Regions from separate parts of the Homo sapiens genome. Here region 1 is linked to region 2. A link means that fine-mapping ties the variant in region 2 to the expression of a gene that starts in the linked region. Tissue or cell type: whole blood. Region 2 holds a variant in brackets; the other region holds the start of a gene. All regions are shown on one strand. Distances are from middle to middle.

Region 1 (2,685 bases), 190 kb before region 2:
CTGCCCTCTAGGAACCAGGACACACCTTCACTAGACAGCAAATAGCCCAACACCTTGATTTTATCCAGCCTCCAGAACTGTAAGACATACTTGTTTGTTATTTATAAGCCATCCATTCTATAATATTTTGTTATAGCAGCCTGAACTGATTAAAACACACACGTTTCTAATATAATCACAGTTTATTTTTATTGAATTGATGCAAAACAGTGAAATGGATGTTTTTCTGAATTCCAAGAGAATCTGAAAAGACGTTGATGCTAGTTATGACAAATATCAGTCAATGTAGTCAGTTGATTAAATATTACAAGGTCGATTAGTAAATTACATTTTAAAATAAAATGAATACTTTCTATTGCATATCAAACAAGTAGGCATTGTGTGTTCAAGATTCAGACTCATAGAATGGTAGTGAATGTAAAAACTCTTGGAAAGCTTCTTGCAAACACACATTAAATTTTATGAAACCTGAAGAGAAAGAGTATTTACCTCAACCTGGCTTATGTTACTTATTTTTAGCGTCTTTAAGGTATCGTTTATAATTAATTCCCCAGCCTTCTTCTTCTTGTAAATGTAAGCTTAGTGTCTTATGTTCTCAAAGCACTTCATCACCTTAGAATGTCTTATTCTTCTGAACTTAAAAGTTTTATGTTTGGGCGATACATGCGTAAAACAAAACAAAGAAATCTCCGCAGAAATAAATAAGTAACTGTCCATTGTAATGAAAAATGCTTGGATGGATAAGTATGAGTAAATAATATGGGGTCAGAGGAAAAAATATAATGTAAACTTCTAACAAGTTAAGCACGGGTAAATTGTGAAGTGCAATGCAAAATTCACATGAGTGTTTCATATATTAAGTAAAATCCACCAAAACAAAACACTGAATCTTCAAGGCAATTCTGTCCTTCCTGCCAGCTGCCACTACCTTTCTGGCAGCCTCCCTTTATCCCATTCCTCCAGCACAGGGAAATGATGCTCTGGCGACAAAGGGTACTTCCGCAGAAAACTTTTGAGAGGTACCAACTTAACTTCCAAGAGCTTGTAACTTACTCCGGTGATTTTAAGACGAAATTGGTGAGAAAGCTGTTAATATAGTAAAAAGTGCATAATAAATATATACGGGTATTAATCCTGCTCACAATCGCACCCAACACCTGAAAGAATTAAACCCTCCAACACCCTTCGGGTCTTTAAAATCTGGGCTGCGGTAATCCGAGCCCTAAGCGACCTCAGATGTGCGCATGCCCTGTTGGTGGAGCCGTGCTCCTCCTTCCTCGGGTCCGGAAGTCCCGGTTTGTTTGTTAAATTACGACCGTCGTAAACTAGAATTTTCTTGCGGCTTCTTAGCTTTACGATGGCAACAAGTATGGCGGCTGCTAGTGGTAGATTTGAAAGTGCGAAGAGTATCGAAGAGCGGAAAGAACAGACCCGGAATGCCAGGGCCGAGGTGTTGCGCCAGGTACCTCTGTTTTGGGGCTTTTGTAGTTATTTATTGTTGTGGGAGTTGAGGGTTCCCGTAAGCTAGCCCACTCACCCCTTCCCTTACCTCGTCAGTACTGAATCTCACCTTAATTTGGGTGAGTTCTCCCTTTGCAATGCCGGTAAACCCTTTTGTAGCTACCGATTTTTTAGATGTTCTGGCAGGTGCCAGTTGCTAATTCTCTTTTCAGGCAGATCTGTCGCTTTTTCTCCAAGTTTCTTTACCTTTTAAGTTACCCATTCTTTACATTTCTATCACTCGGACTGCACACTTTGTAGGTCCCCTGCGGCTTGTAAGGACTCTGCCAGCATGTCTCGCAGCCTCAGTCATTGCTACTGCTGTATCTGAAATGAGATTTTCCTTTTTCGGAAACACATTCAAGTCACACTTGAATAGACTCAGTTTGACATTTCCTCCTCCTGTCTCTATTGGTATCAATTCCAGACTTACTGTAAGCTCTTACCAATCCAAACAAAAGTTAACACCAATCTCAGTATATTTAGCCTGTCACAAAAGATCGCGAAACATTGTATTTCTCACTAAACTTCAGATACATAGAGGTAACATACAAAGAATGGAGAAAGTAAGCTTCTGAATTATCTGACAATCTATTCAATATGTAAGAAGTGTGGCAATGAAAGAGAAAAGTTGCAGTTGGAGAGCAACAGAGAATTCAGTGAGGGTTTTTGTTTTTATTTAAGTTGGAAGAGTTTTAAACAAGTTTAAATGCAAATGAGAAGGAGCCAGCAGAGAAGAGGGAGAGGAGACTCTAAAGGGAAAATGACATAGTTTCAAAATTTGGCAAATAATTTGAGGGTGAAGCAGCCCCATTCTCCTTTAATCTCCAATTTTCTCACCCTGTTCTTTGGAGTCCATCATAAGCCCTGCTCTTTTCTCTGATATCGATTTTTCTGTTTGGTATATAACCATTGTATTCATCTTCTTGCCTACACCAAGAATTATTATATGCACCCAGGGAAAAGCTAGCTGCAGAATGTTGGACTACCTCTCCATGATTTTCCCTTTTCTGGAATATTAACTCTTCTAGTTCTTGTTGCTTCAGCAGTTCTCTGATATAAACCTTTAATAAATTATTTTTATATTTGATTAAAAAAAAAAAGAAAATGACTACAGCCAGGTTTTAAAGGGGAAGAGTGGGCGATTAGTCTTGGGTAGGTGAAATGTTGGTATTGTTTCGTAAT
Region 2 (2,685 bases):
CCTAGGAACCTGGGACCAGCTGACATAACCCCCTCTCAGAACATGGAGCTGAATAGGAGAATTCACAGCCAGCTGCCTTGGACTAACCTACATCAAACCTGGGCAGATTATCCAATTGGATTATTGGTTCAAGAAGGCTAGACAGAGAGATGAGGATCTAGGAGGGAGATAATAGGTTGAATAAACCCGGGAGATTAGGTGAATGCTTGATCATTTGAAGCAAATGGCAGGGGTCAGATCTAGAAATTACTGAAGCCTTGTTGTGATGCACGTTATATTACAAATACAGGCAAGACTTGATTTTCCTACCCTCAGAAAAGGTCAGATAATGAGATAACTGCAGTCTGGGGTGACATGTTAGAATAAAGGTGTGCACAAGCTATTGTGAAGGAAATTAAATTACCTAAGGAAGATGGGAGCAGGAGGAAGGTCAGGGGCTGTTTAATAAGAAAGGATACATGGGAGCTGAGTCCTGATGGATGAATAATCTTTTCAATCAGCAGGAAAGAAGGGAAAACATTCCAGAGAGGAGCAACCCAGTGCAAAATCACCAAGTTTTCATATAGCAAATGGAGATGACAAGGATTTGGGGGTGGCTGTAAATAAGGTGACAATGAAGGAGATCCAAGAACTGATACTGGCAAGGTGGGAAGGACCCAGTACATAAAGGGACATCTGTTTTATATTCAAAAGTTAGGATTTTATCTGTGTGTAGTGGGAATCATTAAAGATCTAAAGGTAGGGAAGAGAGATAAATTGTTGCTTAGAAAGCCCACATTGACACCCATGTGGAGGATGCCACAGAAGGACCTGACATTAGAGAAGGGAGGTTAGTTTATAGGCATTTGCAATGCTGTCAAGAGATGAAAAAGATCTGGACCAAGATAGTGGCAATAGTAGGTAAGAGACACATTTGAGAAATATTTTGGAGATAGAATTTTGAAAACAGGTCAAGGTTGAGTCCCAGATTTTGGATGGGTGAAGGGAACACAGGAAGAGAAGTGGTTTGAAGTGTGGTCAGGAGGGATGAACCAAATGAATTGGTTTTAGAGTTTTTGAATTTTCAGAGCTCTAAGGAGTTCTGGAGGATATTTCCAAGAGCAGAATGGACCTCAGGAGAGGGGTGATCCTGTAGATAAATAGGAGCATCAACTCACGGTAAGTAGTTGAAACCATAGCCTGGATGAGATAATGGAAGAGATGGTGATAGTGAAAAAAAATAAAGGCCAAGGACAAAGCCATGGAGAACACTATTATTAAAGAGGAGAATGGAGAGGATGCTGTTATGAAAGTCAATCGCGGTGGAAGTTTTAAAACAGTGACATTTAACACTGTCAAAAGAATCTGAGATTAATTGAAAGGTTGAAAAGCATTTGAGAATTTGTTAGATTTGACAGCAGTGGTCTTAGCATTTCAGTGGAGGGTCAGTTTTGGGTTGGGGAGTAAATGAAAGGT[C/A]AAGAAGTCAAGATTGTGACTACTCAATTTTTCTAGAGGCTTGACTATGAAGAGAAAACATGATTTATAATAGCTGGATGAGATAGGCAGGTCACGTATTATCTTCATTTAACAGATGATAAAACTGAAGCTCCGAGAGGTTGTAATTTTCCCAAGGTCGACCACTGGTCAGTAACAGAACAAAAACTAAGTCTCTGGTCTTCAGATTCCCAATTCAGTTCTCTTCTACTTGTCCACTGAATATTTGACAGATCCCCTAGTGCAGGGTATAGGATCACAATCAGACAGTATACATGTGACTATGGTATATTTCACCCAATGGTTAAAGTATTAAAGTGGGGGTAGGGGAGGGGAAGAATTGTTTTTCCTCTTGGTCTGAACTTGTGAAATGCACACAGGAAAAGTTCATTTTAAGCCTCATTTGGCATGTTTTCTTGGCTGGGTGTGAATATTCCCAGCAGCCAAGTCCTGTTTTCTTCCTTTGCTTTATCCCTGACAGCCTTGTGCTCCTACTGTGATTTCAATTCATGACCCGAACAAGAATGATGAAAAGTAAATTGCATTCTCATGTATATTGCTATTAGAGGCTAATTACGTAGCTGTCTGAAATCCTTTGTCACTTGGACAATATGCATTGACGGAACCTTATTTCCTTGATTTAAAAAAATGCATTTTATTTGGTGTTTTCTTTAGAGATTAAAGCAACTGTTCTTGCAATGATGCACTGGCTGTTGGAGTCAGAACAGCCATCCGCACTAATGAGGATTACATAAACGTCCCTTGCTCTCATGTAAAGATAAACCTCACATCCAGGCGTGAGGAAACTAGGTCTTGTTCCTAACTCAGATACTACAGACTTAGGTCAACAATGCTGGCCTTCTTCACCAAAGACATAGAATCTTTGAATTAGATGCAGTGCTTTGCAGTGCTTGGAGACAAAGTTCACCAGAAAGATGGTATTGATCTTAGAAAAGATTAAGCTAGGCTGGACGTGATGGCTTATGCCTGTAATGCCAGCACTTTGGGAGGCCAAGGCGGGTGGATCACCTGAGGTCAGGAGTTTGAGACCAGCCTGACCAACATGGTGAAACCCCATCTCTACTAAAAATACAAAATTAGCTGGGTGTGGTGGTGCGTGCCTGTAATCCCAGCTACTTGAAAGGCTGAGGCAGGAGAATCACTTGAACCGGGGAGGCGGAGGTTGCAGTGAGCTGAGATCACGTCACTGCA

The links. PIP is the estimated chance that this variant, and not a neighbour inherited with it, causes the effect.
Region 1: CWF19L2 starts here. The variant in region 2 is fine-mapped to the expression of CWF19L2 in whole blood (INTERVAL, PIP above 0.99). The same link has a PIP of 0.9 or more in NK cells, lymphoblastoid cells, monocytes, monocytes after LPS, monocytes after interferon gamma and skeletal muscle.

The regions. Positions count from the first base shown.
Region 1 is chr11:107,456,489-107,459,173 of GRCh38, reverse strand. It overlaps CWF19L2 (CWF19 like cell cycle control factor 2), which reads left to right and starts at 1,349. Exons shown (of 18, transcript NM_152434.3): 1 at 1,349-1,462. The coding sequence starts at 1,358. RefSeq lists an enhancer at 1,065-1,570.
Region 2 is chr11:107,268,437-107,271,121 of GRCh38, reverse strand. The region is part of intron 1 of LOC105369477 (a long non-coding RNA gene); the gene reads left to right. Among named protein-coding and RNA genes, the nearest start is that of CWF19L2, 190 kb to the left of the region's middle. The variant C/A (reference allele first, on the strand shown) is at 1,456.